Homo sapiens: one gene and its partners. The protein of the gene in region 2 purifies or fractionates together with the protein of the main gene of each other region. This does not show direct contact. Each region holds a gene or a part of one and is shown on either strand. Other genes may lie near its edges. The genes, in order: KRABD3, ZNF738 and ZYG11A.

Evidence for each region.
Region 1: the proteins of ZNF738 (region 2) and KRABD3 purify together in Homo sapiens (affinity purification with mass spectrometry; one large-scale study listed by BioGRID and IntAct). This does not show direct contact.
Region 3: the proteins of ZNF738 (region 2) and ZYG11A purify together in Homo sapiens (affinity purification with mass spectrometry; one large-scale study listed by BioGRID and IntAct). This does not show direct contact.

What each region holds. Positions count from the first base shown.
Region 1 is NC_000007.14:149,728,316-149,731,960, reverse strand, and holds part of KRABD3 (protein KRBA1), read right to left. Parts: intron 3,439-3,645; coding exon 3,286-3,438; intron 2,774-3,285; coding exon 2,591-2,773; intron 2,474-2,590; coding exon of another isoform or gene 2,433-2,473; exon of another isoform or gene 2,210-2,432; intron 1,815-2,209; coding exon 1,620-1,814; intron 1,534-1,619; coding exon 1,393-1,533; exon of another isoform or gene 1,248-1,392; intron 290-1,247; coding exon 185-289; intron 1-184.
Region 2 is NC_000019.10:21,357,655-21,361,904, reverse strand, and holds the start of ZNF738 (zinc finger protein 738), read right to left. Parts: upstream 2,906-4,250; 5' UTR 2,765-2,905; coding exon 2,762-2,764; intron 140-2,761; coding exon 47-139; intron 1-46. UniProt on the Homo sapiens protein: May be involved in transcriptional regulation.
Region 3 is NC_000001.11:52,856,175-52,859,819, reverse strand, and holds part of ZYG11A (protein zyg-11 homolog A), read right to left. Parts: intron 2,823-3,645; coding exon 2,071-2,822; intron 1-2,070. UniProt on the Homo sapiens protein: Probably acts as a target recruitment subunit in an E3 ubiquitin ligase complex ZYGA-CUL2-elongin BC.

The DNA of each region.
Region 1 (3,645 bases), on a different chromosome or scaffold from region 2:
GCTTTTATGAAAATCCCAACTGCTTCTGTGATAAAACACTGAAAGGAAATATGCAACCTGAAGTGCATTACAGGTGAGACTTCCTACCCATCACTCAAACACTGACCCTGGAAGGCTGTTTTCCCCAAGCTGGGGCTCTGGGTCCTGGCCCGTGCAGAGGGAATGGGGGAAGCCACCAGTTCACCTGCAACTCTGGGTCTTCCATGTCCAAGCTCCAGGCCTCTGGATGCTTCACTAACCCTGGGCCTTTTCTCCAGCTGAGAAACCGGGCAGGGATCCTGAGCTGTACCTATAGAAAGAGCACAGAGACCTTGGGGCAGGGAGACGATCGTTTGGCCAGAGCCATTCTGACATACCCTAAAACAATATCAAACTCTCAACTTTTAAACAATGATTAAATGAGATAGAAGACGGAAACTTGGCCCATGAGGGAGCCTAATTCTGGTGGCAGGGCCCGCCGCGGTGCGTGTGTGTGTGGTGTTCCTGCCCTGTATGCAGGGGGCTCCGGCAGGAGGAGGCGGCTGGGGAGGCAGCTGGGAAAAAGGACTCTCATCTGCGGGTCCTGCCCCAGTGAGACTTCCAAGGGCGTGCTGGGGCATCCTGTGGTCCACACCCAGCCCACTCTGCCATTTTCCACTAGGCCCACTGCGGAGTGAAGAATGTGGTGCAGCCTGGGTCTACACAGACCAGGGCCAATGCCTGTAAATGGAGCCAGCTGCAGGAGTTGGGGAGAGCTCCCTCCCCTGACCATTTCTGGCCTCTTCCTCCTTCTCCCCTGCTTCTCCCTCCTTCTACCACTGCTTCTCCCTCCTCGTCCTCGTCCTCCAGCACTCCTGAGGGGGCCAGGACAGCAGGTACTCTCTAAACTCTCTTTTCTCCCAGGCAACTGGGACCTGTCTCCTGTCCCATCTGCTTTTTCTGCTAGGAGCAAACAGTGGGTCACAGTGAGATTGAGAAGCAAGGTGGCCTGGGGCAATAGGCAGCATTCTAGCTTTCCTAATGGGACACTCTCCAAGAAGTACCCCCAGCTGGGGAAATCTCACTTTTGAGACTTTTGTTATTGATTGCCAAGTTTTAAAAGCATACGCTATTATTGTATAAATACATCCACATCTGTCTACATGCACACGTGTATATTAGCAAGCGCAAACACCGTGTACGTGGCATCAAGTGAGTGGCTCAGACCTCCCTGCAGCTGCTCACCAGCACCCCCAGCAGCCCCGCCCTCCTTCTCGGACACAGCTCACCTTACAGGGAACTAAAGCACGGCCAATGTGCAGGACTCCCTGGCAAGAGCCAGGCAAAGCGACAGGCAGGACTCAAAGGATCCAGTCTGGACTCCTGGTCCTCTGGGGAACGCATGGGCGCCCCCTCAGGAGACCCCAGGCTCACCTGCACCGAGGCCGCTGCAGTACCTGGGCTCTGTTCTCCTGGGGTCTTCACCAGGGCTGCCGCCACTGCTGCCAGCAGGGGTCCCACCAGGACATGGGGACAGAGGGACAGGAGGCTTACAGCTGGGAAGGCGGTCCCTCTCTAACGTCACAAACAAAGCTGGCATCAGAGTGGTGACTGGCGCCCTGGCACACATCCCGCTATCCTCCCTCTCCGCACAGGCTCACCCTGGGGGAGCGGCTTCCAGAGATCAGGCTCTGGCCTCGGGTCTTCTCCTTCAGAGCCGCTGAAGCTCGAGCTGGAGCCGGGGCTGGGGCTGGGGCTGGGGCCTCCCACGCAGGCGAAGCGCAAGGGCCTTACAGGCAAGATCCCCCTCAGGGCGCTCTCCAGGCAGTGCAGCGGGGAGGGCTTGGGGGCAGACCCTGGGCAGGGGACCAGAGAGTGCTCTGTCATCAGCCTGAAGAGAGCCAGGTCTCTGCCTTAGTGTCTGGGCACACAGAACCGGTCCCCTTTTCAGCTCAGCCCACGATCAGCATGCGTTCTAGTGGACCCTAAATGGCTGCCTCTCTTGCCAGAGAAAGAGGACAAAAGTGAAGCCAGAGCCTGGCCAGGACCCCAGCAGCTTTGGAAAGTCTGCTGGGGAACTTTCTGGAAGTCTCCAGTCCTTGGAAGCCATTAGCAGTCAGGTTCTAGCCAGGCCTAGGTCTCACAGGCCAGGCGGCTTCTCCCACCAGGCAGGTGCCATCCCTGCACCCCAGTATCTCACAGGGGCCAGCAGCCCAAGGGTGGGGCTCAGTTAGGGCCCATCCTCGTCTGATGGGAGGGTCAGCAAAACCGCATTTATTCAGCAAAGGCATCCCAGCAGGCCCTGCAGCAGATCTAGGAAGGAATTCTGCTGGAAGTTAAACCAAGCAGCAGCAGTGGACGGCGGGAGCCCCCTCAAGAAGCTTCTCCACTGGAGAAACCCAATGGATGGACACAAACAATGATCTTCCCGACCCCGCTCCTTGTCAGCACTTTGTGACACTTTATCTTCTTGTTTAGCGAACCTCAGTTTCTGTTTGGCACCAGCTTCTGTCCTCTGGGGAAAGGATGAGAGATGGGGAAGAAACAGAGGGACAGAGAGGGAAGTCTATTTCCTTGTCAAACACTTTAACTGAAGTGGGGCTGTCAGTACCGAGGGCAGGTGCCAGCTCACCCTCTGGGAGCCACCTCCACACTCCTGGCCTGGTGGCCCCAGGGTCTTTGAACCCCCGCTGGTGGCAGGCGGGGACGCAGCTGGAGGTGAACACCTGTGGGCTGACCAGATGGAGGCTCCGGGTGGGCGCTTCTCCCCTACCCTGCCCGAGACGGGCTGACTCGCAGGCCTCAGCCCTCAGTCCTGTTTTAATGAGAAATCAGAAGGCCTGTCAGCCCCACGGGGCCTCGTGCTGCCACAGAAGAAGGGACAGGGAACAGTTTCTGCCATTGCTGGGCTCTCAGGCACACCAGCATCAGGTGTGGGAAACACCCATCTGTCATGTTCCAGGGAGCGCCTGAACCCTCCAGAACATCTCTATTCCCAGACCCAGCTGCGTGGACCCCTGGGCTTGGAGACTGGTGCCCAGACACCAAGGCTCGTGGGGCTGGCACGGCCGGGACAAGGACACCCAGCCACAAGGAGCCAGCTCCAGCTGGGATGGTGGAACCGCAGACAGTGGCACTAAGGTGCCAGCAGGTCTACACGTGTGTGCTGCAGACTATCTGGCTTTCTGGCCTCCAACAAGGCTCTGCCCAGGTCTGTTTCCAGAGCACCATGTTGGCTCAGGAGCAGATCTGAGCCCACAGGTGCAGCGCCTAGGGCATCCTCAGAGCAGCCCTGTCTACACCCAGGGCCCCGGCAGCCACTATTACCTTCCTTGTCTGCTGTCCAGTTCCTGGGCTCTGCTCTCCTCGGTCCCCTGTCTGCTGCTGAGGAGCAGGGCCAGGCAGGCCGCAGCACAGGCACAGGTATCTCCTTGAGACAATTCTCCAGACCCTGCAGTGGGGAGCTTCCTGGTGGGCTTCCTGTGAAGATCAAACATTCACAGATGAGGGGGACTGTAGCTCAATCTCTGCAAACTGCAGAAGCCCCCTGTCTTCTGCTGTGTCCAGGGAAGGGGGGTCACAGGGGTGCTGGGCACAGAGCACTGGACGTGTCAGTCCTGGCTCTGGCGCGGCCCTGCTTTGGCTGCCGTGGAAGAAGCCTGGCCTGTCCTGGCCACCCACATAGAA
Region 2 (4,250 bases):
TTTTCAAGCTGGTCCCAAAGACAATTTTAACATATCAAGGGGTTACCTTTTCAAAATAAGAGTACTCCAGAAGATTCCTCTCAGCCCCAGGGTATCCACTTGCCCCCTTGACAGGATACACTCCATACCTCAGGTCGTCCTATGGGAGAAAATAAACCAGAAGCTGATATCCACTAGACACTCTAGCTGACATAACCATGGCAGATATCTCGGTTTATCCCCAGATAATACTGAAACCCAGGACCGGGAAAAAACTAAACGGTGGCTGAGGACACATCACCCCATAAATTTTCCAAAGCAGAACTCTGACCCAAAAAAATTCCGATAACATCTCTGTGCCTAGAAAGATAAAAGGAAAAGACACACAGAGATTTTTTGCAACACAGTGTCAGGGGATTATTATTTGCTTTCTTTTCATGGAAAATATTTACAAACAGATAACAAACCTTCTTAAAAGTACCATTGGTCTGGGTGTGGTGGCTCACGCCTGTAATCCCCACACTTTGGGAGGCCGAGGCGGGCGGATCACCTGAGGTCGGGAGTTCGAGACCAGCCTGACCAACATAGAGAAACCCTGTCTCTACTAAAAATAAAAAATTAGCCGGGCGTGGTGGCTGGCACATGCCTGTAATCCCAGCTACTCGGAGGCTGAGGCAGGAGAATCGCCTGAACCCGGGAGGCAGAAGTTGCGGTGAGCCGAGACCATGCCACTGTACTCCAGCCTGGGCAACAAGAGCAAAACTCCGTCTCAAAACAAAAAACAAACAAAAAAACCCCCAAAACACCATTTATGCAGGGCGCAGTGGCTCACGCCTGTAATCCCAGCACTTCGGGAGGCCAAGGCGGGCGGATCACCTGAGGTCGGGAGTTCATGACCAGCCTGACCAACATGGAGAAACCCTATCTCTTCTAAAAATACAAAATCAGCTGGGCGTGGTGGTGCATGCCTGTAAACCCAGCTACTTGGGAGGCTGAGGCATGAGAACCTCGTGAACCCGGAGGCGGAGGTTGTGGTGAGCCGAGAATGTGCCTTTGCAACAAGAGTGAAACTCCGTCTCAAAAAAAAAAGAAAAGAAAAAAGCACCATTTAATGCCTTGCCAAAAAATAATTAATTAAAATACGGTATAAAAAAGTACACTACAAAATAAGTGGCCAGGCCCGGTGGCTCACGCCTGTAATTCCAGCACTTTGGCAAGCTGATGCGGGCGGATCACCTGAGGTCAGGAGTTCGAGACCAGCCTGGCCAGCATGGTGAAACCCCCGTCTTTACAAAAACACAAAAATTAGCCAGGTATGATGGCGCGCACCTGTAATCCCAGCTACTAAGGAGGCTGAAGTGGGAGAATTGTTTAAAACCGGGAGGCGGAGGTTGAGGTGAGCCGAGATCGCGCCATTGCACTCCAGCCTGGGAGACAGAGCGAGACTCCATCTCAAAAACAAAACAAAACAAACAAAAAAACACAAATACGTGATAATGTGAATTAGGGAGGAAAAGCTGGCATTTGGGAACCCCAGAAGAAATTGGAAATTTAGTATCTTACTGCAAGCAAGAATGAGGTTGGAGTAATGAGGGATGGGGGTTAGACTTAAGACCCTGATTGGGACCCAGGTGAAAAATGCAGCAGAAAATCAGTTCCCTGTGGAGTGTGAAAATAATTAAGTGGCAGGCAATTAGACTGAGGTTTCTCTAGTCCCTGGGTTCCTACTTCAATTTAAAAAATCTAACTCAGGCGCATTATTTTTAATTACTAAATTCAGAGAAACAAAATTGAGGCTTCACCTACTATAAACTGCCAATTGAGCTCCGATTACATAACCAGGAAATTTTCACCTTTAATGTACAAATTAAAAAACCACGTAACTGTACCTAACCAATTACTAAATTTGGTTTTCTTCATCATGCATTTTACAAAAGACTTTCTTTCAAGCCTCTCCCATAGACCACAAACTAAAAACCACAGCTTGGTGCTCTACAATTCTAGAACCACTTTTTGATTAAATTATTTAATAAGTTAATTTTTTTTTTGAGACAAGAGTCTCGCTCTGTCGCCCAGGCTGGAGTGCAGTGGCACGATCTCGGCTCACTGCAAGCTCTGCCTCCTGGGTTCACGCCATTCTCCTGCCTCAGCCTCCTGAGTAGCTGGGACTACAGGCGCCCGCCACCACGCCCGGCTCATTTTTTGTATTTTTAGTAGAGACGGGGTTTCACCGTGTTAGCCAGGATGGTCTTGATCTCCTGACCTCTGATCCGCCCACCTCGGCCTTCCAAAGTGCTGGGATTACAGGCGTGAGCCACCGCGCCCAGCCTAGAACCACTCTTTGATTAAATTCTTTTAATATTTTTGCAGTGACTCCCATTAACTTTTAATAGGAGATAATAGGAACTGGGAACCCCACGGAACAAACCTCTTCCCATTCATGAACCCGCACCCCAAGTCAGGATTCTCCCCTGACGACCCTCCCACGGTCCCTGCACAATCCGGTAGAGAAGCGGCGCTGCGGGTGCAGAGATTCCCCAGAGAGGGCTCCAGGCAAGGGCACAGTCACTATGCAGGGAAGAGACAGGACGCCCGGGGGCCGGGCTGTCGGCGCAACCGCCATCTTATGGCTGAAGGCGACTGAGGCCGAGCTGGGCAAGGAGAACTCGGGGCGCAGATTGTAGAGCTGACTGCGGGGAGGCCTGAGTCTCGCCACAGCCACTTCCCACCGGTTCCAACCAGCCCTTCCCCTCTCTCGGGATGTTGGACCCCGCACTCTCACCATTTCTAGGCTTCCAGGGTGTCCCGGCGTCTTAGCTGTGGATTCCCAATACCTGCAGGTCACAGGACCAGAGGCTGGGCCTCTAGGAGCAGAGGACACAGAGCAGTGAAGACGAGACCCGGAGTTCCAGCGGCAGCCAAAGACAAAGAAGCGGACAAATCCCGCCACATCCCGGAAGCCGTCCTCTCCGCTCAAGCTGCGTGCCTGATTGGACAGTTCCCAGCCCAGCGTCGCTGATTGGATAACGTTTAAAACCCCACCCTCTCAGGCCCTGACTGACAGAAGATGTAATTAGATGCTGGGCTGAATGAAGAAAGAGTGACCGCCTAGGCTGCAGCCTTTTCAGGCAGGGCTTCCTCCTTGAGCTGAGATAGGCCCACCCCAAAGGGTATTTGCATTCAACCTTGCGTATAAGGTCATATGCATTTGTAAATACTATATCATATGGCTATACATAAATGAAAAGGATATAATAACAAATGTTTTAAAATTTCAGGGTTTTTTTACTTTCCTGGCTTACGGTCCTTTGAGCAGGCAGCCTGAGATTTTAAAAAGGAGGTAATCCTCTGAAATAAAATGTGAGCCACGTGAATTTTGAATTTTCTGGTAGCCAAACTAGAAAATTAAAAAGAAACAAGGGGCCAGGCATGGTGGCTCACGCCTGTAATCCTAGGACTTTAGGAGTACAAGGCGGGCAGATCAAGAGGTCAGGAGTTTGAGACCAGCCTGGCTAACATGGTGAAACCACGTCTCTACTAAAAATACAAAAATTAGCCGGGCGTGGTGGTGGACATCTGTAATCCCAGCTACGCAGGAGGCTGAGGCAGGAGAATTGCTTGAACCCGGGAGGCGGAGGAGGTTGCAGTGAGCAGAGATCGCGCCACTGCACTCCAGCCTGGGCGGACAGAGCGAGACTCCGTTTTGGGGGGTGAAAAATATAAAGAAACAAGAGGCCACGCGCAGTGGCTCACGCCTGTAATCCCAGCACTTTGGGAGGCCGAGGCTGGTGGATCACGAGATCAAGTGATTGAGACCCTCCTGGCAATATGGCTAAACCCTGTCTCTACTGAAAAAAATATAAAAATTAGCCAGGCGTGGTGGCGCATGCCTGTAATCCCAGCTACTGGGGAGGCTGAGGCAGGAGAATCGCTTGAACCCGGGAGGCAGAGGTTGCAGTGAGCCGAGATTGCGCCACTGCACTCCAGCCTAGTGACAGACTGCAACAACAGCAACAACAACAACAACAATAACAAGGAACAGGTTGAATTGATTGTAACAATGTAATTAACCTAATATATACAAAATATCATTTTAATGTGTGAGGAATATGTAATTATTAATGAAGTATATAAATATTTGCAACTAAATTTTTGAAAATAACTCTGTGTTTTACCTTTCTAGCATATCGCGGTTCAGACCAAGCACATTCCAGGCACCCAGGAGCCACACATGGCAGCTCTGATGTCAATGGTGTGAAGGGCCAGAGGGG
Region 3 (3,645 bases), on a different chromosome or scaffold from region 2:
TATAGTCCCAGCTACTAGGGAGGCTGAGCCAGGAGAATCACTTGAACCCGGGAGGCAGAGGTTGCAGTGAGCCGAGATCACACCACTGCACTCCAGCCTGGGTGACAGACCGAGACTCTGTCTCAAAAAAAAAAAAAAAAAAAAAAAAAAAAGGCAATACACAAACAGATAAAAATAAAGAGCCCAGCTGGGCGTGGTGGCTCACACCTGTAATCCTAGCACTTTGGAAGGATGAGGCAGGCAGATCACGAGGTCAGGAGATCGAGACTATCCTGGCTAACACGGTGAAACACCATCTCTACTAAAAATACAAAAAATTAGCCAGGCGTGGTGGTGGGTGCCTATAGTCCCAGCTACTCTGGAGCCTGAGGCAGGAGAATGGCGTGAACCCGGGAGGCGGAGATTGCAGTGAGCAGAGATCGTGTCACTGCACTCCAGCCTGGGCGACAGAGCAAGACTCCGTCTCAAAAAAAATAAAAAATAAAGAGCCCAGTAACAGACTCACACATATACGGACACCCGATTTTCAACAAAGATGCCAAGTTTATCCAAGGGGGGAAGAGATAATCCTTGGTGGTGAGCCAAGATCGGACCACTGCACTCCAGCCTGGGCGACAGAGCAGGACTCGACTGTCCCAAAAAAAATTTGGGGATCTCAGCTCACAGCAGAGGTTGCAGTGAGCCAAGATTGTGCCACTGCACTCCATCCTGAACAACAGAGTGACTCTGTCTCAATAAAAAATTAATTAATTAATTAATTAAAATACAACAATTGCTAACTTCAAATCAAAAGAATAAAATGTTAACACAACTAATGAGTATACAAATCACTTTATTCTCTTCCCCTAGGAAGAACTAAGGAGGTATTATTATAAAGAAAGAGTTACTTTAAAACAACAGCTCTGGGCCAAGCATGGTGGCTCATGCCTGTAATCCCAGCACTTTGGGAGCCCAAGGCAGGTGGATCACCTGAGGTCTGGGAGTTCGAGACCAGCCTGACCAACATAGTGAAACTCTGCCTCTACTAAAAATACAAAAAATTAGCCAGGTGTGGTGGTGCACACCTGTAATCCCAGCTATTCGGGAAGCTGAGGCAGGAGAATCGCTTGAACCCGGGAGGCGAAGGTTGCAGTGAGCCGAGATTGCGCCATTGCACTCCACCCTGGGCAACAAGAGCACAACTCAGTCTCCAAAAAAAAATAATAATAATAATCGGGCCGGGCGCAGTGGTTCATGCCTATAATCCCAGCACTTTGGGAGGCCGAGGCAGGCGGATCACCTGAGGTTAGGAGTTCGAGACCAGCCCGGCCAACATGGTGAAACCCCGTCTCTACTAAAAATAAAAAACTAGCTGGGCATGGTGGCACGTGCCTGTAGTCCCAGCTACTCGGGAAGCCGAGGCAGGAGAATCACTTGAACCCACTATATCTTCTTTTTTTTTTGAGACTGCGTTTCGCTTTTGGCCAGGCTGGAGTGCAGTGGTGCAACCTCCACCTCCCAGGTTCAAGTGATTCTCCTGCCTCAGCCTCCCAAGTAGCTGGGACTACAGGCGCCCGCCAACACACCGGCTAATTTTTGTATTTTTAGTAGAGACCAGGTTTCACCATGTTGGCCAGGCTGGTCTCGGACTCCTGACCTCAAGTGATCTGCCCGCCTTGGCCTCCCAAAGTGCTGGGATTACAGGTGTGAGCCACCATGCCCAGCCTGTATCTTAATATTATATTCTCACGTGTGGCCAGGCACAGTGGCTCATGCCTATGATCCCAGCACTTTGGGAAGCCGAGGCAAGCAGATCACCTGAGGTCAGGCGTTCGAGACCAGCCTGACCAACATGAAGAAACCCAATCTCTATTAAAAATACAAAACTACTCCATCTCAAAAAATAATAATAATATTCTCACAACCTTCCACATAGTAGGTACATAATAATCATTAATTATTAAAAAAGCTCTTTAAGGATTTTTTTATCTGTCTCTGTAACCCTAATACCTAGTAAAAAGTCTGGTCTATAGCACGAGTTTAATAATGTTCTAAACAAATGAAACAAAACTTATTCAGATAAGAACAAACCCTCAAGCCTTGCTTTGTAGTAAAGAAGTCAGAAGAGCCAGCATCCGTGGCCAATAGTCCCACAAATTGCATGGCAGGCCGCAGTCGTATAAACAGTTCTACAGCTTCATCAGTGATGCAATTGCCCCCAGAAATATCCAATGACACAACATTGGGCAGGATATCCTTCTGCTGTAGCAAATGAAAAGCTAGGTCTGATTTGAGTTGCCTGTGATCAGAAATATCAAGGTGAAGCAGACATTTAAGTTCTCTAATGACTGCAAGAATTTGTGATTTGGTCATGGCCAGGCATTTCAGATAGTGCATTGTGAGAGACTTCAATCGATCCTTACAGGTAAGCAGTGCAGAAATATCAGTGACTAGAGTATTAGAGATATCTAAGCTTTCCAGTCTTGGTAACTGAGAAACATTAGCCAGGTCTTCAGTATGAAAACAAACATTAAAAACACTTAAAATGCGAAGACCAGTGAGCTGACTAAAGAACAGTAATCTTGAATTTTGAGGGATGCTTGTCGAGTCTAACAGGAGACACTGGAGGTTTTGCTGGATCCACCTATTGCTGCAGAGTCCACTTATGATGTCTGGAACTGGGAGGTCAGCGTGCACTGCAGTAGCATTCAGTTCAATGAGCTTATGACGGCAGAAGGCTTTTATGAATGCAGCTGTAGAGATTTTAGCTTTTTGGATATTGACCAGCTTCAGTTTCATTTGGTTGCCTCGGAAAATGCTGGCTGTTCTGTCAGTCAGCTTGCCTATGAAAGAACCAGAACCAACTTGTAATGACAACTAGATCTCATGTCTTTCCAGGATAAAATGTGGCAAAGAATTAAGACAGATGTTAATAATAACAATAATGACAACATTTACTGCTCTGTGCTAGCATTGTTCTAAACTCCTTTAATAAGATTATTATCTCATGTATTCTTTGCATTAATACTATAAAGGAATTATTGTTACTACTACTATGTAGCTGAGGAAACTGAAACTTGAATAGGTTAAGTAATTTATCCAAGGTCACCATCAGAATCAGGAGTCAACCCCAGTTTGGCTGTAGAGCCCAAAATTTTATCTACAGTAACCTTGCTCACAGAAAGGAAGAACAAAATAAAATAGGTAGATAAGTACAGGATATACAATATACAAGTAGCACTACTAATATTATTTTTAACCAAATTAGTAGATAATATTTGACAAGTCACTTACCTCTCTGGGCCTCATTTTCCTCATCTGTAAAACGAATGGGTTGTCCTATTTTTCATTTACTACACATATTTTTTTTTTTTTTTTTTTTTTTGAGATGGAGTCTTGCTCTGTCACCCAGGCTGGAGTGCAGTGGGGGCTCACTGCAACCTCCGCTTCCCAAGTTCAAGCGATTCCCTTGCCTCAGCCTCCCAAGTAGCTGGGACTACAGGCACTGCACCTGGCCTACTACACATCTTCTATGGTGAGATTCCATGTTATGTAACAGGCACGTAAGGTAATCAGACACCTGTGACCACAAGGAATTCAGTATAGGGAGGCATACCAGGTAAATACCAACACCATAAGTCATTAAAGAAATGCAAATTAAAAGCA